3 separate regions of the Homo sapiens genome follow, and all the other regions are linked to region 1. The links come from fine-mapping of genetic effects on gene expression. A gene starts in region 1. Each other region holds a variant in brackets. All regions are shown on one strand. Distances are from middle to middle.

Region 1 (8,000 bases):
AAACTACAGTAATTTTCTGCTGTGTGTAAGAGAGAAAATGTGCTTATGAACTGTATTCAGCAAACTTAAAATGTTGAAGCTCTTGGTCACCTTTTTATGCCCAGTAATGATAAACTGTCAATTTGCTTACGTTATTTGGGAATTTACTAGCAACTTGCTGCAGATATCACAGTAGACACATCTCTTATAATATGTATGATCTGAAAGAAGCAGCAGTCTGGTAGTTTTTTGTTTGTTTTATTAAAATAAAAACTTATAAACTTATAAAAACAAATGAACAAATATATTTATCCTAATAGCTCTTCTGAGTTTGCTTCTGAAATCACCTATATTCAATATAGACAACAAAACCAATTGTTTTTGCTATTCTCTGAGGTTTTTGAGTTTGAGGGTTTGAATTTGATTCTAATTTTTAGAAATGGGCAGTTGTCTGAAATATGGAGGGATGGGAAAAGCCTTTAATTTGGAGTAGGAGTGAGGAAGGAAACCCAAATGTTATACACTTCAGTCAACGTATTTGTTAGAGAATTGAATTATTCTCTTGAGGTTTTTTTTTTTCTCTTTGTTAGCAACTCGAGATAGATTCTCCTGCCTCTACTAATATTGAAACCCTGGAAAATGTTAACAGAACTACAGAGGGGAGAAATTATCAGGATGGAATGTAGGCTTTGTGTAGATATGCAACATTGGGGGCACTCAGCAGATGTTAATAAATACCTCTTTCTATTGTTGAGAAAAAATGGGTTTGATTTGGGTGTGAACTGCAGTGGTCAATGAAAGGAACTTGTATCTCACCAGGGTGTGTTTTAAGCAGTAGAAGAGGAATCTGGGTGTTGATCCAAGTGACGTTGGTTTTTCATACCAAATTATTCCCCATTTTTAAGGGTTGTCATCCCCCTAAAATTGTAAGCTCTCTTGTGTCCATGTCATATGCTTTCTTGGCAGTCCTTGTGATACATGGCTGTGCACACAGTAAGGTTTCAATAGATCCTTGTTGTCTGAAACCAGATATTTGGGAATTTTGGAGACAGAGTTGACGAAGGGGTGAAAGGAGGGCTGTGGGTAGAGAGTAAGAGAAATAGTCAAAGCAGAGAGAGAATTAAATAGAGAAATGGCCCGGGGAACCAGAAAAAAACCAAGGTTGGTGAGCAATGAACCATTTAAGTTCTCCTGAGAAAAGAAAAAAAAAAAAACTGGACTGAAGAAAAAATTTAATCTGAAGAGTTAATTAACAAAATTATAAAACCTCTAAAACATCCCTCTCATTACAGTTGTAGTTTTAAGACAAAAAAAAAATATCGTGGAAAGCACTCTAATTTGTCCTAGGAATCTATTTAATTTTGATTTGTCCAGTAATAGAAATTTGAGGGGGAAATGCAATATACTGTAGTTTATGAGTCTTTTAAATGTTGTTACTTCTGAATTCCATCCTCTTTGTGATAGTGAGAGTGAAGAAAACACAAGTGTATTTGAAATCACTTCTGGTTTCAGTGCATGTGCTGATTTGATTTTTTAGAAGTAGAATTAGATGGCAAAAAATAAGAAAACCCTAACAATACAATCTGGGCAGGTTAGAATATCAAAAATTATAACGAGCCTGTTCTAATGTAAAGAACATCTCTAAAAGATGTGAATAGGTTTTAAAAATATGATGAATATCTAGCATTGGATAAACACAAATAAAGGTATCAGTGAATATCACAATGGAAGAATCACATGATAATAATTAATAAACATTGACTCTTCTTGGCCAGGTGACCAATATTATTTCACAGTTGATCCTTGAGGGCAGAGCCAATGACCTTTGTCCTGAATTTTAATAATTTACTGAAGTTTTACATTAAATCAGAATATAATTGGGAAGAAAATTAGTGTTTCTTTGTGGGGAGTGCAGAGTAATGCCACTAATTGCTTGTATAAAAGCATTCCCGAGGTTGTATTTTCCTGTTCTTTCATTAGAAAATTAAAACTACAGTAATTTTCTGCTGTTTATAAAAGGGAAAATGTGCTGGTGAACTGTATTCAGCAAACTTAAAATGTCAAAGCTCTTGGCCACCTTTTTATGCCCAGTAATGATAAACTGTCAACTTCCTTACATTATTTGGGAATTTACTAGCAACTTGTTGCAGCTCTCACAGCACACAAATCTCTTATAATATGTATGGTCTGAAAGAAGCAGCAGTCTGCTGGTATTTTGTTTCTTTTGTTCTTTCTTTCACTTTAATATTTGAGCAATTTAATATTTAAAATATGTGTTAGGGCAAATAACCATGTTTTTCTGTTTAAGGAGATGGACAATGAAGAACAGTGTAAATTAACCTCAGTAGAATAATGCTTTACAAATTATATTTAGGTAACTGGGGGATTGTTTTCAGGTAAATTATTATCAAGTAAAAGAATTGAGCTGATTCTAAAAGTATATTGGGTTTAACATTTTATGAAAACATGTTTATTCACACAGATACATACACGTGTACATCTCCTGGGAACTTGGAAGGGTTAAGTCAGACCACTGTCATGTTACAGGAAGTGTTTTTCCACTGTGTCCAGTACCTTGAGTTTGTTATGTATTCAATATGTAGTGTCATCATAAAACAGTTGCACCTACCTGCATTAGCCCTCATTGTCTCAAGGTACAAGCTGAAAAATAATAGAAAGTAAAGCTCAGGAATTGAATATTTCTGCTAATAGTGTGTTGGTATTTTTCCCTCAGTTCACAGACATTCTTGATTTCAAAACGCAAACTACACAACCCAGGGCACTAGGGTTGGAATTCAATGTTTATTCAAAAAGGCACCCTAAGGCAGTTAGGGAGGAAACGCTACATGTATGAAAAATAGGAGCCGGGAATCAAAGCTGATCTGAGCAGAGCAGCAGCGACTGTATTTACTAACACTTGTTTTCTGGGAGCCTATGAGAGAAATGGAAATAATTAGAAGGAAGCTGAAAGGATGGGGTTTTGTGGCTTGTTCTCCTTATATGGAGCAAAGAAAACTGCAGCAACTCTTCGGGAGCTGGTATTCCCTACTGCCATGGGGGCAGCCGAATTCTGGGTGGAGGAGTTTGTTTATACCTTAACACATACAGGCTATTTTGTTGATTAAACAAGCAAAAAAAAAAAAAAAAAAAAAAAAAGCCCCGTTTGCGCTTTCAAACACTCCCTCAATGAGAAAATGTCTCATAAAAATGCATCATGTGATAAGCTCTTGCTTTAGTCCCAAACTGAGCTTGAGTCCACTTGGAGATCTTAGAATTAAAGAGTTCTTAGGGAATACACGTTTTAGCTAAGAATATAGTTACTCTGTCATGAAACAGGGAGCTTTGCCACTTGCTTGTTTTGGAAGGAAAATAAATTAAAAAAAGATTGCAGGGGATTTTGGTTATTATATGGCCAGGGCTCCGTTTAGAGTCTGTGGCATTCAAAGCTGGCTTTAATCACAGCATGATGCTTGAAGCCTCCAAAAGTCTAAGTGTTTCCTTTCTTTCTTTCTTTTCTTTTTCTTTCTTTTTTTTTTTTTTTAAAGCGTTACTTCACTGAAGCAGAGGGCTGCCTTTGAGTGACGTCACGAGTTAGAGCAGCAAGCTGCACAGGGGAAGGGAGGCTGGGTGAGTGACAGCCCAGCCTACTTTTTAATAGCTTTGTCATGTGACTGGGGACTGTAGTAAGACAGGTGCCTTCAGTTCACTCTCAGTAAGGGGCTGGTTGCCTGCATGAGTGTGTGCTCTGTGTCACTGTGGATTGGAGTTGAAAAAGCTTGACTGGCGTCATTCAGGAGCTGGATGGCGTGGGACATGTGCAACCAGGACTCTGAGTCTGTATGGAGTGACATCGAGGTGAGCTGGGGCAGGGCTCGGCGCTGCAGCCACAACTGACGCTTCCCTCAGATGCTATTATTCCTGTAAGGGGGGATGGGCTTGGGCAAAGAGAGGAGCCAGGAAAGTAGTCCAGGCAGGAGCTTTTAGAAGAATCTCAATCTTATCTTAACTCCAATAAGTTTGCTATTTTAAGGTGGCTCTGAGATGGCTTGAGCAAATCAAAGCTTAGCTGCTGTCATCAGTATCTGTTGCAGTTAGAAACTCTTTCCATGTGACTTTGGCACTGTTTCTACTCATATGCAATATTTATGCTCTAAGATATTGATATGAATCAGAAGCTGAAGTCTTTCCAGTGGTGTTTAGTGGCCTGGTTGGAAAAATGCCATTTCTATTTATAATAAGACGAAGATAAAAATATTAAAATGGATGTGTTCAAATATAGTCCGTTTTGACTCTAGTCCGGATTTTTCCCCCCTCTCTCTCTGTTCATCAGACAGAGAACTTACAAAATCCTAAATAATCCTGCTGGGCTATTTTAGATTGCTTTTCCCACAGAACACAAAACAACGATGCTGCTTCCTTTAAAACTCCTATACGTGGTTGAAAGATTTGGCCAGCGAATAAAAAGAAACGCCTGGCAGTGCAAGGTTTTCCGTTCGCGTCGGTGGCAGGGAAGCCAATGGTTAAATCTTCCTGTACCACGGAGAGCTGCCTGAAGCTGAGAGAGAATAGAGTTTATGCAGGACTGTGTGTGGAGCTGCTCGCTGCTAGTGTAAAAATAGACAGCAATACATCAATTCCACAGTCTCTGCTGGCTACAATTCATACAGGGGGGAAAATAACGCAAGCAGTTTCCTCGTAATCTCTGGAGTCTAGTGGGGGGACGGAGGACCTCGGCGTGTTTGCATTCAGCACAATGGAATGCTCTCGGAAGGAAAGTTTGGGCAACTTGGGAAACAAGCAAAACTTTCTGTGGACTCTGGTGAGATGGACTCGAATTGAATTGCATGGAGGATCCCAGCTGCTAACAATGAATCTGGCAAAAGACTGCGAGTGTTTCCTCTGGGTAGCTGGGGGCACGTAGGGTAAGGGGGAGGATCAAGCCCACACGTGATTTGATTAAATAAGATGTCCATGTGGTGCAGCGATACACATCTAAAGTGAAAATAATTTGGCCAAGGCCGTCTGTGAATGCATTTTTCCTATCTAGCGAGGCATGCCCGGGATTCTTAACTCTTTGCTGGGTTTGCAAATGTTGGCTCCATTTGCCCTCCCTTGCCTTGGTAGATCGTATTTGTGGATTGTAATTGTTATCTTGTTCTGATTTCTTGGTAAGGCGGAATAGATATGGATAATTCATATGCCCTGTAGCCATTATGAGTCAGGGTTATAAGTGGCTTCAAAGTCCTAATTGCCTTTGAGTAGCCGGAGTGTCCTGTGGGTGGTTGTCTGGCTGGCACTGTGGGTCTCAGCTGCTGTAGTTTCATTTTTCCATCATGTATTATTCCTGATGCTGTTAGGAGTTGATTGAGGAACTAGATCATATGGAAATAAGGAAGATTTATTTTAATCATTGGAATTCCTGCAGTCATTTTCAAATAAACATCAGAAGCATTTAGAATAGTGGCCTTTAAATTTTTTTCTTAAGGAGGAAAGGTCTTGGCTACTTGTCCAGCCATGGATAGAGTCGCCAGTCGGCTGAGATTGGCCAGTCACTTCTCTGTTGCACTATAGGCAGCTAGCTGCTAGAAGCTTTGCCTACATGGCAGCGGCTCTGGGAATCACCTCCGCCTGTATAAAATATTACGAGCAGCAGGTAGCGTTGGCAGTTTTCATTTTTTGAATCATTAATGTTTGCTGTCATCCTAAAACGTATTATGCCCTTTTGCACATAATGACAGGGTAGTACATTGGTTAATATAGGCCTATATCACTATAGCTACTTGGAGTGCCCCGTGTTTCACAGTTTAATGAAGGTGATATACAGTAAGGTTACTAAGATTGATAGAGACAATTCACATGACATACACCCCACTAAGACTGTCATTCTTTACTGCCCCTCTCTCCACCCCCTTTCCCCTGTCTTAACTAATTTTTTTAAGAACCCAGTTTCTTTTTTCATTAATATAATTAATGTGGCCAAGTCCACTCCTTCTTCTCTCTCTCTCTTTAAAATTTACCATCAATGGCACAAAAACCTCCAAAAGGTTAATGGAGAATTATACTTAATTATAATGATTCATTATCATCAGTGCAGTTAAGCTAATTTATTGTCTGCTCCTTAACTAAGAGAAAAGTCTGTTGGGGTGAAATAACATACAATAATTAGCCTTTTGTGTTTAGTGACTGCTTTATCCTCTTAAATCTTATTATAAAATTGAGGCTACAGTTGTGAAATAGCTGTCATAGTTGCAAAGAGGCAGTAGAATGTGTCTGTGTAATTGCAATAAAGCACACCTGTTACAGAGGTATAGGGAAACAGTAAATATCAGCATGTCAGATGAGGACAGTTACAGGGCTTGGACTGTTAAGTCTGGCATTGTCCAAAGGCCAAATATAAATTAATAACAGGAACACTTGCTACCACTAATGTGTTTTAGATTAGCAGGATAATGCCACATTCAGAAGCACAGATTTTATTAGCATGTCAACATTGGCAAGAACACATGCACTTTTCTCAACCATAACATAAAAGCAAAATGAGAGAGAGAGAGAGAGCGCACGAGCGAACAAGTGAGAGGAAGGAAAGGAATATGTAAATGACAAGATAGCACCAATACAACAAATTGACCTGGTCTTTTCAATGGTTTTCAAAAGTTATTTAAAAATACATATTTATGGAAGGTTAAAGGGTTATGAGCAAGTCATGCCAAAGAGGGCAGTTAAAGAGAGGGACAGGAAGAAGTTGTCCACAAATCAGTATGCTACTTTAGCATTCCAAAACATGGTTGGTTCCTAAGTTTCACAACAGGAACTTAAGCCATATGTAGACAGCCTACATTTTCTTGATTATTTTTACTTTTGTGTTGCTATTTTTGTTGTTCATGTTTTTTTTTTTTTTTTTTAAAGACTATGCCCCTATAAAATCCTAGTGTATCTTGCACCGTTGAAAAAGTTCTCCCCCATCTCTGAATTGGTGACATTGAGGAAAAGTTAAGATAGTGTGTTTGGGCTTGGAGGATCAGCTGTGTGGGCAAGAATGGAGTCTGGGCAGTGTTACATCCACAACCAAATATGAGCATTGTACCAGAACGAGATCTCTTCAGCCCAGCCTCCAGTTACTTATATGCCTTGTCAAGTATACTGATCTGTAATTTTGGGCTAACTCAGATAATAAAAGGAAAGACCAATAAAATGATAAGGAAAGAGTTTTGATGGTGAGGAGGGCCCTTTCTTTGCATTCCCTTGTCCCTGCTGCCAGGGATCTCACTGGGGTCCAATGGTCTTAGAGAAGGATGGCAATGATTTTCAGTCTCCCCCCATCCTCCCCTTACCAACTGCTGACTCCATTACCCAGTACTTACTTCTCAGCGTGTTGCTTTTGATCACGCTGCTGCATATGACCTGTGTAATGTGGCCTGCTAGGAATCCCTGCCAGGGATAACAGGGGTGCTTGAGAAAGAAAATCTGCATAAAACTTATTTCATTCAAAATGTAAATGTCAAGGAGCATCTTTCATTTTATGCCTAACTGCAGCCTGGATGTGAACAATTCCACAGCATCTCTCCTGACCTTGGAAGGCAGGGCCATGAGGGTGCTGCGTCAGTGTGTGCCTCCTGATTTAGACACCCCCACTTACAGGTGGATGAAGTCCTTACTGTTCTGGCAATGCCAGACCCCTGCAATAGGAGTTCCTGCAGTGTTCTTTACTGTCTGCGGACTGACATTAGCGGTTAGGTAGCCAATTCAAGTTTAGGAGACCACCTCATTGGTAAGGGGAGTCCACTTGCCTCCAAAAGCCGCATGGTAAAACAGTTAAAAAGACTGTCTATTTCATGTAAGGGGATGAAATGCTTTGACAATCTAAAATAATCTTGGTGATAAGCAGCCCAGCCATGGTAGAGATATTTTAAACCTCTCAATATGTAGAAATTATTTTAAAACTCTAAACAAAAATAGTTATTTTGAATTCACGTAGAGCACAGTTTAGATATACATAAATAATGAACAAAATATAGTGATGG
Region 2 (8,000 bases), 23 kb after region 1:
ATACACTTCTTCACCCCTCACTTAACGCTTGCTTCCTTTTGCTTTACTTATGATTTAAATGAATCCGGTTGTCTAATGTTCTATTCAATATGTGATGTTCTATGAGCACATATGACATTTGAAGAAATGGTTTAGAAAATTCATGAAATGGTGACAGTAAAAAGATAATGGTGAGCAGTGACAACTGACCAAAAGAGACAAGACTACAAACTACAGAAAGTTGACAAACCCTGAAAATATGACAGTCTGGGGCCTTTTAGTTTGAGGGAAAATAATCCTATATTTCTCAATAGGTCCATACAGTCATTTTGCAATACCAGACAGTGCTACCAAAATCAATCCTCATAATTTTTAAAGTGGGGAAAATATGTAAATACGTGATTCGGAAATCTTTCCATAAAAAAGTTTTAATAAAAAGTTTGGTGCTTAAGCAAGTTAAGTTCTTTGATTTATCTGCACCAGTGCCTATGTGGATTAAAGCCTGATCATGTGAGGAAATAGGTGAGGCATATATACAAACACAAACACGTAGTTTTAGATCTAACAGATTTTAATGGAGTTTATATATTATCCTGTAAGTGTTTCCTGTGTAGACTTTGATAATAAAGAAGAAAATGCTCCATGAAATACCGAACTTCATTTTATAATCTGTTAGATTACATCTTCCCTTAAAAATACAGCTATTGAAATTTTCTTGAATAAAGAGACCACTGGATTCTTTTTCCTTATCAATAGTAAAGCTTTTTGGCTACAGGGACGTTGGTCAAGACAAATATAGCTCAGTAGAGTTATCGTTAAGTAAGCAATTTCCCACATTACTTTAGAATGAAATCGCCTATACTTTTCTCCTTCATGGCTTTCCGTATTTATCCTACCCAGTCCTCAAATAAGCCACCACCCCAGCAATGCACAACTCACTTGTAAATATTCATCTGGAGCATACGAAATCGTAATATCACTACAGAGACTAACTGCCCCCCCGCCCACCCCGCCGTGCCATTTTCCTTTGGAGACTCTTATAAATAAATGAACAACCTTAGAGCTTTCAAAACAGTCATTAAGATCTGCTACTTGCCTTTGGATAAAGAATTTCAGATAATGTACAGGACTGGGCTTCCTAAATCTAATTTCTGTCTAAAAACCTAGGGAATGCTGTAGCTGTATCTTCTCTATCCAAACTCTCTTGACTGATTCTGGCACCTTTCACCTGAGAATGCACAGCTCAAGATTCTCTATACGGACCCAGAGCCTTGGTCGGGCCACAACCCTTCATTAATATTCAAACTTTGGCAGTTTCAAAGAATGCTGCCCTCCTCGACCACTGTGAGCAGTCCAGCTCCCCTGCTACTTTCTCTCATGCTTATCCTTTGTACGAAGACATCTGTGTCTTTCCTCATGTCTCTTTCAGGAGTAATTCTTCCCCTTGTTCAATTTTTTCCTTTCTCTTTATGGCTGTCGTAATAGCCCCTGATACAGCCAGGCAGCCATGACCCTGTCCATCACTCACCTGCAAGCTATTCTTGAACCACTGGATGGTCCCTGAGTGACTAGATTAATGGTGCCAGTGGTGAGCCTTTTCACCTGACCTTTCATCCAGTGACATACAAGCTGATTCCAGGCTGTGTGCAAGGCTGGCTGCCCTGCCATCTCTGCACCCTCCATGAAACCAAGCAGTGGAAAGGAGAGTATCCATGCAAATTAAGTGCAGAAGCAGGGATAAAATAAGGTGTGCAGTTGGGAGTTATCAGAAATTAAATCTGTCTTCCTTTGAGTGCCATTGGAAATGAGTCTTAAGGAATGAGAACTGAAAGGAAACTTTCCATAGACACCATTTCCATAAACGGTATTGTCACAATATGCTATTTTAAAGACTGGTTGTTTTGGTCTGTGTTTACATTAAGCCTTTACCAGGCATGGGATAAACTATTAAGTCCCGAAATTTAGGAAAGTATTTGTGGCCGTCTTTGGCACAAAGTGAATTTTTGTTGTCACATGTGCAAAAGAGCATCTTTTTCTTTCGTTAAGGCCTTCGAATTGTGGTTCAGCTTTCTAAGTAATAGCTTTTTGGCTAAATCTCTCAAGGTGCATTATAAACTGCATGAGGGAAAGAGGGACCTCATCACCTCCTCAGTCCCTAGCACAAAGCTGTGCACATTAAAACTCTCTCTAGTTTTTGTTAATGGACAGATTTACAGGGGCTCTACCAAATTCAGAAAGAGAGAGAGAATATAACATGACCTTCCCAGCCATTCAGACCAATCATGCTAAAAATAAGACATATCCAAGATCTGAGAACATGTTCTCCAAGAGATGGTTTATAAACAGAGCCAATAGTGACAGCAGTATGCTGTGTGTCTGCCAGAGTGTCTGTGAACTTACCCCCTAACTCAGCTACAAGACTTGCTGTTCAGATGAAGATATATGGAGTTGGGAGACATGTGGTTGTGTTAAGCGAATGTGCATTGGCGGGTAAAGGCGCTGCTATATGTCTACTGAAGACATAGAGCATTTACTCTTCTCTCCCCGAGAAGAGGAAAGGGCTCTGCCACTCAATGAAGAGCTCAGGAACAGGTACCTTACCGGGGTTCCAGAGCATGAAAGTAAGTGTGTCTCTGTTCAAGGAACCCGCTGTTCCCAGGAAGCTCATGCAAATGCATGGCCACAGCTTCCCAACACGCTGTTCCCAGCACTGTGCCCGTATTTCCTGGCTGGTTTTGACCCTCTCAATGGATTCAGACTTAAAATTTTTGCAACTGTTTTTGTCGTTGTTGTTGTTGTAGTTTCCTCGTTTACGATTGTAATGAAAACAGTTTACCTCTTGTGGAAAAGTGTGCATGATTGTACAAGTTTACTGTGCCATACTTGTATCGCAGTTGCCTTATTTTTGGAAGAATCAAGCTTAGGGGCTAGAAAGAAATCCTGGGCTGGGGAATGATGGGTAATTTCTCAAGGCATTCAGATCTTTCAGAAGTTGTGAATGATTCTGACCTTACTTTCATTTATAGTCTGTGATCATTGGAACCAGGATGCAAAAATAGCAGAGAGAGGATCTCCTTCACCTTAATTCCCTGCCCTTTTCTGGTATCTGTAGTACAATTGACTATATGGACATCACTGCTATTTTAGCAAAAGCTGGTGAGTTATCTTTTTTAGACGGGACAGTCTACCCAGTCCAGGATTTTAGTCTGACTGTCATGTTATAATTCAGTATGTTCCTATGCAGGATGCTCTAATGCAGAGACTGATTTCATTCATTCTTAAACTGACCCATTTATCAACTATTTTAAAAAGCAACAACTACATGC[T/C]AGGCACTAATTTAAGTGCGCATAATACAAAGATGTATTAAGTACATAATGCCTACGACACAGAATTTTCCCTTCAGGAGTTGGTTGGCTAGTGAGAAAGACAGACTTCGGCAACTAATTATAAAATAAGGGGATGCATTCTGTATTAAAGTCAGAAATGAAGTACCATGAAGACACACATAGAGGAGTAAAAATGTCCGTGAAAAGGGTGAGAAGAGAGGAAATTTGATAATTGTTGCTAGATTTTTTTACTCGTGAGTCTTCAATAAGTCAGAAGTTAAATACCCTCTTATTTATTTATAAAATTTAGCAAACTGCACTTCCCACCTCTTAGGAGGAAGACAAGAAAAAGGATACACATAGTAGGTTCTTAATAACATTTGAAAATAAATTTGCCTTCTAACAAGTCCCGTCTACATTGCACTCCGCAGTTCAATGGCTCATTAGGTTTTAACAAAAGCAGCGCAGCAAAATAAGAAGGATTCTTGAGTCAAGCACCCCCGGGCGGTATCTCTGAGAGCAAATGTGACAAATAGAATCAGAAATGAATTAAATAGTCAGCTACAGCAAGCCAAGCTAAAAAAAAAAGCTCTGAAATGACCCAAAATGGAAACGTATTACAGTTATCTGCATTCACAGTACCGAACAAGTTTGGTCGTATTTAAGATAATTCTCTAGTGCCTGCTATTTTTAGCTCAAGGGTAAGCTCCTGTAAGAGTCTTTCGGCATTGCATCCCTTTAACCTGGCCTAACAAACTAAGCCAATAAGCTGTCTGATTTTCCTGGTCCATCAGGGAGGAAGAGAGATAGCTAAAACAAACCATTTGCGGGGAAAATGTTCGGCCTATCTTGTGTTAAGAGCTTTTTTCATATAGATTTTTAAAACATCCCAATATTAAGTGTTGCCTGTCAGAGACCAAAATGTCAAGCTTTGCTGTTTTGAAATTGGAGGCTCATGGTTATAAAAAGAGGATTTTATAGGCCTAGTCTAATGGAAATAAACATTACTCCATTACCTTCAGTAAAACCAAATCTTTACAGTTCAAGCTATCATTATTAATGTCTATGAGAAGAAAGAAATGTTTCTAGGGCTTTATTTATTTTTTTTAGGTAAAGAAAGGCGAGCTGTACCATAGCAAATGAAAGTTTTCTTAAAGCTTTCTCCTCAGTGACTTTGCAGTGTGTAATTTAAAAGCAGAAAGCAAAGAAAATGCAGTTTTAAAACACTAGGCTGGCTATTCCTGGTATCTTTCTTTCTTACATATTCACAACTCTTTGTGAGCCTATTGCTCTGTCAATTCTTGTCTGTCTGTCTCTATATAGTGTATACAAACAACTTCATCAACTATTATTCACCACCTTCTAAGTGCACATGTACATGTGTGCGTGTGTGTGTGTGTGTGTAGGAATAAATGTGGGCTGTCTCAGTTTAAGCCATATAACTGCATGTGTAGATTACAACACTTAACAATATACTAGTTTCCACTCATTTCATCAGAAACCATGCTGCTGATCATCAAAGTTTAAGACTGTTCTCAGGTTGACCAGTTTACCTACATTCTGAAGCCTGCATTTGCCAATTTAGTGTGAAATAGATTTCAGCCGCAGATGCTACCTGTGAGGCAATTAATCGCCAGATATTTCTTGAGTTCATATTATTATGTGCAAGGTGTTATGCCAGGTGCGGTAAGAGGTGGAAAGGTGTCTAACACAAGGCCTCAGTCCTCAAGGAGACTTGTCACTGAACTGCAGAAATGAGATACCCATGTTGATAGAATGCCACCCAAGGAAATTTTAAGACATTTATAGAGTCCCTACTGTGTCCCAGACACCATGCATGGGTCTTCTCTCTTAATAGATCTGATTCTACCTGAATTACCAGCCTTCTCATAAACATTTTATTGGGGCCGTGCTAAGTGTCAATCACTACCCTTGGTTATGTGTGATTTCTGTCTTCCCACAGATGAGGAACTTAGGACTTAGTATTTAACCAGAACTCAGATTTCCTGGTTCTTACTGCTTCTCCTCAGTGTCAGAGAAGAAATGGGTATTTTCTATCAGGAATCCTCAGAAACGCTGGCCAGTCACATTGCCATGTTCAAGGATATATTTGCTTGACTGAGGTGGTCCATTGATGGTTGAAGGATCAAGCTGTGACTCTTTCTTTTCTTTTGGAGGCAGTCTCACTCTGTTGCCCACACTGGAGTGCAGTGGTATGATCTTGGTTCACTACAACCTCCACCTCCCAGGTTCAAGTGATTCTCCTGCCTCAGCCTCCCGAGTAGCTGGGATTACAGGCGAGCACTACCATGCCCAGCAAATTTTTTGTGTTTTTAGTGGAGATGGGGTCTCACCATGTTGCCCAGGCTGGTCTCAAACTCCTGAGCTCAGGCAATTCACCCACCTTGGCCTCCCAAAGTGCTAGGGTTACAGGCGTGAGCAACCGTGCCTGGCCAGTGGTGCCTCTTTTTTGCAGAGAACTGCTGGTTGCAATTGCAACTGCCGTCTGCTGTCAATGAGGTCTTTGGTGCTTTGCAAGCTTGCTGCTGATCTTTAGTCCCCTTTAAGACGGGCTGTTAATCTTTAGCACAAGGCTGACTCTGCAATACAGCACACACCAGGTTGCCTAACTTCTTGTTTATGTGCTCCCAGGGATCAGAAACCAGTTTGCTGTTTCCCCCTAAAACCACAAGCCTTGGGGTCATTGTCTCTATCTGTCCTTTGTTCTCCATGTACAGTCTGCTGCGAAAGACTTTCCTCTTGTTCTTGAGTGCATGTTCACCATCTTCCTCCATCATTTCCTTTGAACCCTCAGTAACTCATACTTAGGTGATTTAGCCTTCCTCTCCCCTGCCAGGGCTGGTTGCTGCTACTCCTGAAGGTATACTACCCCACACATACCATACTTGATTGTTAAACCAAACATTATTTTTCAGCATCTGCTGTGTACCTAGAATTTTGCCGGAAACCATGATAATTACAGACCAAGTATATGGGCTTGGGATTCCCTTCCTTTGGGGATGCCCAGCTGTATAAGGAGGCAAGACTTACCCGGGTGACACAATCAGACAATGGGTAAAATGTAGATAGTAAAATGTGGACAAAGCCCTGTTCTAGGCACCATATAAATAAAAGAGACAATGAATTAGCCCCTGCCTTCAGTGTCCTTAAAAACTAAGGAAACATGTGAGCATTGGCCTGATATTAACAAACTACTCTAAGAATTTTAGAGGTGGGAAGAGATCTGTGAAACCTATGAGTGAAGAGGGAAGCTAATGTGGTGGAGGTTGCCTTTGAAATAGATCTTCAAGGCTGGGTCCAGTGACTCACACCTGTAATCCCAGCACTTTGGGAGGCTGAGGCAGGTGGATCACCTGAGGTCAAGAGTTCGAGACCAGTCTGGCCAACCTAGAGAAACCCTGTCTGCACTAAAAATACAAAAATTAGCCAGGCGTGATGGCACGCGCCCATAATCCCAGCTACTGGGAAAGCTGAGGCAGGAGAATCACTTGAACCTGGGAGGCAGAGGTTGCAGTGAGCTGAGATTGCGCCACTGCACTCCAGCCTGGGTGACAGAGCTAAACTCTGTCTCAAAAAACAACAACAAAAAAGATACAGATCTTCAAGGTGTAGAGAGATTTCCATGGACGGAGAGGAAACGTGGGCATTTTAGACGTCGGCTTTCATCTCATTATTATTTTAACACATATTTATCACCTACTATGTGCACGGATTTATGCTAGATGTTGGAATAAAAAACTGAACAGGATAGAGACAATGCTATGAGCAACACAGTAGTGGTGAGGAAAGACCAAGTGATGACTGGGGACTCATCTAATAGAGCAGCAGAGAAAGTAGATACAAGTGAATGGGATCTTGGAATTGTACTAAATTAACATGAGGGGAGATTTCATCTAGCATGCTCATTTCACAATGGAGAAACTGAGGCCCAGGCATGTGAAGTGACTTGCATAAAGAATATCAAGGTTAAGTCAGGAGGAGCAGAAAAAAAGACAATATGGGGTTTGTTAGACACCAGGGACTCTTAAAAGTTATCTGGTGGCATCAGCGAAGAAAGGTTATCTTAGAGCTTGCAACCAGGGGCCTGGTGAGGAAGCTGTTGAGGTTTTCAGGCTTGAGGTCATAGAGCTTGAATTAGGGGGTGATGGTGACAATGAAAGGAAGGAATGCATATGGCAGACTTCCCGAAGGAAGGATCAATAAAGATTGTTGTCATATTAAGTGATAGGTTGGATGTTGTGGTGAAAAAAGGGAGGAAAAATGGCTGTGGTTTCAACCTTGGGTGATTTGGAGAATTTGGGCTTGGTTAACAAAAATGAGAGAATGAGAAGAGGACATGTTTCAGGGAAGGCGCAGAGAGGAATGTGATGCGCAGATTGTAAAGCAGGTGGGGCGGCTGCTATTGGAAGGAAGTCCATGAACAATATGCGACGATGGAGCTCTGGAGAAGTCATGGAGTGCTTGATAAGGAGGGGTGTCTTCAAGAACATTGTTTATTTGGCAAATAAACTGGAGGAAAGATTTAAGGGATCCCCTTTTGCCCCACATAGTAAAGATTTTTCTCTTGCTTTGAGTTTGATAATTCGCCAGGCTTCTTCTTGCCAATAATAATAATACTACAGTAGCTTTGGGCTTGCCCAGCACTGGACTCAACATCTTAAGACAATGTTAAAA
Region 3 (8,000 bases), 34 kb after region 1:
ATTTTTAAATTTTTTGTAAAGACAAGGTCTTACTATGTTGGCCAGGCTGCTGTTGAACTCCTGGCCTCAATCAATCCTCCCATGTAGAGTTCCCAAAGCACTGAGATTGTAGGGTTGAGCTACTATGCCCCACCTTCTACTCAAAGATTTCTTAATTGTCTAACTCAAAAGCCCTTTTTCAGGTCCCCATTCTTCTTGAATTTTCTGTGCTACTTGAATATTCCTTATTGACCAGGCTACATGAAAATTCTTTCTCTTTTTTGGTGTTATTTTATTTTATTTTATTTTATTTTATTTTATTTTATTTTATTTTATTTTATTTTATTTTATTTTATTTTATTTTGAGACGGTGTCTTGCACTCTCTCCCAGGCTGGAGTGCAGTGGTGCCATCTCGGCTCACTGCAAGCTCCACCTCCCAGGTTCCTGCCATTGTCTTGCCTCAGCCTCCCGAGTAGCTGGGATTACAGGCGCCCGCCACCACGCTGGGCTAATTTTTTGTATTTTTACTAGAAACGAGGTTTCACTGTGTTAGCCAGGATGGTCTCGATCTCCTGACCTTGTGATCCACCCACCTCGACCTCCCAAAGTACTGGGATTACAGGCGTGAGCCACCGTGGTGTTACATTTTAAATATTTTGAATTTTTGTTAATGTTCTTCTTTGCAGTCTCCCAATTTCCTTCCCTCTTCTTTGAATACATCTTCTCTCCTTCCTTTGCTGGAAGACCCTAAATGTACCTGTACCTTCCCCTTACACTTTCAGCATTCAGGCCAACTAGAGATAATTGGACAAGCCAAAGATCATGTCTGACATGGCTCGCTAGTGGCTCTGTGTCTGAATGGGTTGGCATCATCTTTAAGAATCTTGTCTTGGCCTAACTTGGGACTGACATTTTAAGCATTAAAACTCTTCACTAATTAACAGAGGCAACCTAAAGAATAGTTTTTGAAATGATGCTTGAGTGTTCTCTTACTACATTCCCTGGGAATATTCCCTGGAAAGCCCACAGAGTTGATAATGTATTTGAATCATGTACTGGAATGGGCTAGTATTAAAAGTTATTACAATACTATTTTAATTTATATTTATAAACTTATTTATTTGTATTATATAAATTTATATTTACATACTTTAATTTATGTTTATATTTAATTTATTCTACAAAATATAAATATAAATTTACACTTTAAATCTATATAATTTATATTTATATAAGTATATATTTATATACCTTAATTTGTATTTATATTTCAACTCAGCCAGTCCATAAAACTTGTAGTTATTTTTCCTGTCTTTCTAAAAAGGCTAAAAGGCAAATGTTCTGCAGTATGGAACTGAGTCTCCGAGTTAAGAGGTTTGCCAGGTAATTGCTAGCAATGACAAAGGTGAGATTTGACTGTCAATTTTCTACCTTTCTGAACATTAGACAGACTTCCAATATTCACATATCATCTCTATGTGGCATTTTCCAGGACTTTCTTAGGTCTTCAAAAACCAAATGAGGGACATATCTCTACTTCACAATGAGGAAACCAGGACTTAAAGGGGCTTGCCCAAATTCCCTGAGGTCAGCAACCTTCTCTTCTCTTTGTATCCCAAGAACCTAAAGGCAATGGTAGCAAGATGGTTAGGAGACTGGGCCCTGTAGTCAGACATGCCTGCCTTTCAAATCTTAGCTCTACCACTGACTTGCAGTAGGACCATGATTATCTTTTTTCTCCTTTTGTAAAATAGTGCCTGCCTCAGGGTTATTTATTCATTCAGCAAACATTTACTGATCACCTATCATGTGTGAAAATGTTCTAGGAATATAGTAGTGAACCAGGGAGTAAAAAAAATCCTGCCCTCCTGGAGCTTATGTTCTAGTTGGTTGTTGTTAAAATTAAATGAGACAATGCATTGAAAATGTCCTGTATAGTGCCTGGAATAGAGGGGGTATGCATTTTGACAGAATTAAGACAAAGTCTACAAACTCCTGGAAGTAATAGCTTTTGCCTTTCCTTGAATCTATAAAGATAGCAAATGTAATATTAATAAGTCCTTTACTTTTCCAAGAACCATTTCATTCCACGGAAAGCCATAGTAGTATTTAGCCATAGTAGTTGTTTTTATAATTTAGCCATAGTAGTTGTTTTTATAATTTAGAGTTCTTTGGTTGCAAACAATGGAATAGAAAACAAAGAATCAACTCTAGCTTCCTCAAGCAGAAAGGCAGAAGGATATGTATGGCTGATGGAATTGATGAGAGGGTGTTGAACTAGGCTTAGTACCTAAAAGACCTGGAGCCTGGGAACTAAACTGCAAGAGGAGTCTCATCACGATTCAAATGTCAATAGGTTTTCCCTATTCTGTGCTAGCCCTGGAGTGGTGAGAATAGTGTGAGGCTTTTGCTTACTGGCTCTCGGTGTGTATCCAGTCAAGGAGGGATAATTCTGTGAAAGGAAAGTGTGGTGCATTTACAAATCTACTGGGCAGTCAAGAAACAACCAGTGACAGTTCTGAGGTCTTAAAGCTGGATGAGTTATACTGTCAGCACAAAGTGTTTGACATTAAGTAAAAGAATGGGGTTCTTGTTCCCAACTAAACAGTGGGAATTCTACCACCCAGTGGCTATCCTCTGAAATTCCATGAATTGAAACTAGTGCTTATGATTTAGTTAATATACATTTATCTGTATGCATATGCAGATAAATGTATATTTATCTATTTAGTACATAAAATCTATTTAGTACGTGCGTGTGTGTGTGTGTCACACACACACACGCACATACTAAATAGATTTTATGAAACTTCATCCCTGGCTTTATTTGCCAAAGGCGAGTCCTCCATCTTGTGGTTTCTGCATCTCTTTGGCATTTGTCACTATGCACTTGTTGCCTTTTATATTGTCACAGGAATCCCAGAAACACCTATAGAACATCAGTGATGAGCATCTTCTGTGAGTCCAGTGGTGCACTGGCTCTGGGAATATGGAGAGACCTGTTACATTACCTTCTATAATTACATGTATTTGCTATTCCTGAGAAATCATTTGTGTGTCTCTGCCAGGAAACATTAGCCTTTCCATTTTTTAAGTTTTCAAATAATATATGTAGAAATAATATAAGGAAAGTACATAGTTCAATGCTTGCACTTAATTGATAGTCAATAAATGGCAATTTGTTGACATTCCAATACCTTGAACTTCCTGGATAGCTCTGTAAAACGGAAAGTGTCCTTGGGAACAAAACTGCACAAGCATGCTGGTCAAGATTCAAATTCCAGGGAGAAGGTGTTCAACAGCCTGCCCCTGGGCTCTGTGCCAGCCTCTCGGTGATGAAGGGAGAGTCCGGCTTCTGTTATTGGCTCCCCAGTATGTATTCAATGTGTACCTTTAATCAAAGGTAAATTCCATGAGGGAGGGGCCATGCCTGTTTTATAGGCCACTGTATCTTGCATGTAGCAGTTTCTAGCACATGATATGCACCCAAGAAACATTTGTTGGAGAAATGACCAAATTGGGATTCTCTCTACAGAGGCTAAAGGGAAATGACTAAGCTACTTGCTGAGTGGCTATCATTAGTGCATAATTTTCAAAAGCAATCATAGAATGGGCAAGACGTTTAATCTCTGTCATGAAATGTAACCTTTAGAGGGAAGACAAGCAATCACAATGTGACTTCTCCGAGTGTCCTGCAGCTTTGAGCATGGCCCGGGCCTCTCTCTGATGGGGCTGATGAAAGCCAACGAACAAAGGCATTTTGTATGTTAAAACAAACCACATTTAGTCAACAGTGTTTGCAATGACTAATCCCTGGTAAGAAAACACCAAGAAGTGGCCTACACCTCAAAAAATATAAGCACAGAGAATTCTTTCTTGGAATACTGGCTGCAAAAGTTCAGCGTTTGGCATTTGCAATGATTGCTGTTTGATTTTCTTTATGGTTGTGTTGGCACATTCTGGAAAGTCAGGAAGCTCAAGTATATACTGTGGGAGCTCTATGGGGTGGGAATAGGAGATATACAAGCTTTGTTTTGTATTATAACTATTGCAACACATTTCCAAATGTCACTTTTTGTCCATGGTGGGAGAACCTGGGGATAGTTCAATGTCAGATGGTTTCAAGTGACATAACACTAGTGCAGTAATTTATTTATTCAATTATTGTTTATTAAGTGTCTACTATATGTTGAGTCTGGTGACACTTTGGTTTTTCTGTGTTTAAATTTTATTGTTTCATTCTGATGTAGCACATCCCTTCCTGCATCTCTTTGCCAGCCTAATTCCTTATAACAATCCAGACTTCCCCTCCTACATCACTTCTCCCAAACCACCAACACCTGGCACCCTACCACAGCTTAGGTGCCTCTGATGTGGGCCCTGTAGAAGCTTTACATTCTCCCAGGATTTCTCAATCTGCCTGTTTCTTATTTGTCCTGTCTCTCCCATGGGATGAGAAGCTATTTAAGGGTCTGGGCTGTGGTTGTCACTAACCCAGTATCATTACTTAACTCAGTGTCTGAAATATAGTCGGTGCTTATTAAGCATATATTAAATGCATGCAGAATATGGAATTAAATAAACCTGAAATTATTTTTTGGAGTACATTATACAATGCACAAGAGTAGGCATTTTTAGAAGCATCGAGCATAGTAGGTCCTTGCTTGTCCCAAGAGAGC[G/A]TTCAGTTAGCTAAGTAATCCTCATATATTTGACAAATGCTTTCTGAATGCCAATTATGTTCCAGTTTACCATCTATTTGGAAGTAAAGATAAGTATTTTAAAATATAACTAACATTAAAAGTCTTGAGTGGTAAAAGCCAGATTCAAATAAGACAGTGAAGGGTCAGGGGTTGCATGGGTATATTAGTCCAGTCTCACTCTGCTGCTAAAGACATACCTGAGACTGGGTGATTTACAAAGAAAAAGAGGTTTAATGGACTCACAGCTCCATATGGCTGGGGAGGCCTCACAATTGTGGCAGGAGGTGAAAGGCACATCCTACATGGCAGCAGACAAGATAGAAAATGAGAGCCAAGTGAAAGGGGTTTCCCCTTATAAAACCATCGATCTCATGAGACTTACTCACTACCATGAGAACAGTATCGGGGAGTGCGCCCCCACGATTCAGTTATGTCCCACTGGGTTCCTCCTACACACGTGGGAATTATAGGAGCTACAATTCAAGATGAGATTTGGATGGAGACACAGCCAAATCATATCAGTGGGTGAGGATATCACTTAGGCTGGTAAAGTATTTCAACCTAGTTTATATTGGAAACAGGCCTTTCTTTCCCTTCCTTCCCCTTTTTTTCTTTATAGCTTCTCATTCATCCATCTGGGATTTACCCGGTGTCTACCATATTCCAAGCATCGTATTAGATACTTGGAATATAAAAATGAATGACACACTCCAACCTCAGGAAATACACAGCAGTAAAAAAAAATTTTAAAGGTGAATCTTGCCTTTGAACCAAACAGTTTAGTACAGTGTTTATTTTCAGTATAAAAACTCATATTTGTGGGACAAGGCCATCTTCATTTATATAGTTCTTATTCCTTCTCTCAAATTATGTTTCTTGGCCAAGTCTGTGGAACTGTTGGACTGTATGGCCTCTCAGTCAAGCCAGACACAGCTGAGAGGCCATCGGAAACTTGTAGGAATTTCCGGTAATTGGATAGGACCATAATCAAATTTTATATGAAGTCTGGATGTGCTGATGATGTGCCTTCATTTCCCAGGTCAGAGGGAAAATCTGGATGCCTTAATACACCCAAAGGTTAGGAGAGGCCTTTTCTGAAATTGTTTTCAAAGGGATTTCCATGACCAAAATAACATAACTATGCTAAAAATTCTGTGACCTGATAAGAAATCCCTTGCCTGGATTCCTGGCAACATTACTTAAAACTAAAAATGATTCTCTCTTCTCAGAACTAACACTCAGTATCGGACTGACTTATCTGACACTTGTCATGTACACATGGCCTTGTGTCATTAGTTGTATTTTCACTGCTCCTGTCTCACTCCCTTGACTAGATTATAAACTCTTTGAGGCTAATAAAAATAATACAGACAATAGCTAATATTTATTGAGGGTTTCTATGTGCCAGGCAGTATTCTAAGCACTTTATACGTTTCATTTAATTTTTACAACAACCTGTGAGGCAGGTATTTTATCATTATCTTCCCTGTGTATGGGGAACTGGTCCCAGACAAGTTCAGTAGCTTGCCCTAGGTCCCCAATCCTAGTAATTGACAGAGCTAGGATTCATGCCCAGGCAGTCTGACTGTAGAACCTGTACCCTTGTTTACTTTATTGTTTGTCTTCTCTAGATGTCTTGTGCTTTACTACATGCTGACTTGCATGTGGAAGATACTCCAGAAATTAAATCGTTGTTTTATCAGATAGTTTTCTAAATGTCTCATAATCCTATCAAGTTTCTGTCTATCCTTCTGGGTAGGAGATATAAGGCAGTTGTTATTGTCTTAATATTCTTGGTGAGAGTATAAAGGATAAGGGTTTATTTCAGGTACAGCAAAGAATTTTCTACAGAAATCCCTCCTCATTATCACCACTGAAAATTCACAGTGCCTAAGTGCTTATCAGGTTCAAATATGATGGAAACCTGTCCCATCTCCAAATTTGAGATTCCTCTTGTACACATCTAGGACATTTGAGTACCTCCTCAAAATGTGTCTCATTGATCTGAGGTAACATAGCAGATGTAACTTAGGAAGTCTTTATTTTCATTTCTTTAACAAGTAATAGTCCTTTGGACCATTGTAATAGAACACATAAAGTATAATGACCCTAAGTTAATGTTGTTTTATGCTTTATTTTCTGTACCATGTTTCTATCTTACATGTCTCTCACTTTTCCCCCTTTAAAAGATGTTCTAGGGAGTGCCTGCCACTAAAAACTAACCCCTTTCTGTACTTTCCTTTAATCGAACTATGAAATTTTGTGTATTTAAAAATTTTGATTGTATTTTGCTTTCTATAATGAAAACCTTCTTCTAATATAGAAAACCAGTATCCTAAATGCTAAATGCTTAATTAAAAAAATTCTTTTACAAATTTCTTATATAAAAAGGAAAACCTGTGAAAGGAAATCTCTCAGCTCCAGAATCAAATTAACAAATAATTTTGATTGGAATTATTTCATGCAGACCATCCTGTTAACCTGCAAAAGACAAAGTGCATTATAGTTTTTTTTTAGGGCAGTGATGATGTAGCTGGAAGTTGAAATAATTGGTGTACAAATACATGTGCAAACACGCACACATGCATATGCCTGTCTGGGTCATGTGTCTTGTACATATCTATTTCCCTAAAGGCTGATAAAAATGTGCTCACGAAAAGATAAAAACTAGGCTTTATATGGTAAGTATAAAACATGGCATGATGCTGTATAATACTTTAAAAGAGTTATGTTGGTGTGCTTAACCAATATTTCATGGGAGAAGAGAACTCGAATAGGATCTTAAGCTTTAGGATTTCTATGAAGAAAAAAAAACGGAGAAAACTATTTTATAGTGAAGATACCAAAATGTGGAGGTAGAAAAATGGGGGAGGGTGGATTTTTAAAACGACAATCAGAGGAGAGTGACTCCAGTGCTCATGGGAGGTAGGCAGGAAAGAGAATGAGTGATGTGGCCTTGATGGGGAGCAAGTACAATGAAGACTGCCATGAAAATTCTATGTCAGGGCTGTAGGGGTGGAGACAGTGGAAATCTGAGGAGAGCAGCCTCTCTGTAAAGTGATCAGCTCCTCCTCAAATCCCAGCTTCTCTAGATCTTCAGATTTATTTTTTAAAAGCAGAAATTTCAGATACAATTTGCGGTTCAATAACTGTTGTTAAGTAATCTAATAATGTTTAAAAACCTTTTGTAGGCAAAACCATGCTCACCAAATGAAACGTATGTCTGGACTGGTTCCTCCTGAAGACCTCTAGTTTGAAACTTGAGCTAGAAAGAATGAAATAATTCTACATTTTAATTCAAAATGTTGTGGTCTGCCTCC

The links. PIP is the estimated chance that this variant, and not a neighbour inherited with it, causes the effect. A credible set is the group of variants that fine-mapping cannot tell apart.
Region 2: its variant is the best candidate, but not a certain one, in a credible set for the expression of PPARGC1A in blood mononuclear cells (TOPMed, PIP 0.68).
Region 3: its variant is the best candidate, but not a certain one, in a credible set for the expression of PPARGC1A in monocytes (TOPMed, PIP 0.72).

The regions. Positions count from the first base shown.
Region 1 is chr4:23,885,738-23,893,737 of GRCh38, reverse strand. PPARGC1A (PPARG coactivator 1 alpha) reads left to right here and starts at 3,691. Exons shown (of 13, transcript NM_013261.5): 1 at 3,691-3,834. The coding sequence starts at 3,781. RefSeq lists an enhancer at 7,016-7,592.
Region 2 is chr4:23,862,662-23,870,661 of GRCh38, reverse strand. All of the region lies in intron 2 of PPARGC1A (PPARG coactivator 1 alpha), which reads left to right. Among named protein-coding and RNA genes, the nearest start is that of PPARGC1A, 23 kb to the left of the region's middle. The variant T/C (reference allele first, on the strand shown) is at 3,306.
Region 3 is chr4:23,852,124-23,860,123 of GRCh38, reverse strand. The region is part of intron 2 of PPARGC1A (PPARG coactivator 1 alpha); the gene reads left to right. Among named protein-coding and RNA genes, the nearest start is that of PPARGC1A, 34 kb to the left of the region's middle. RefSeq lists an enhancer at 7,488-7,657. The variant G/A (reference allele first, on the strand shown) is at 4,660.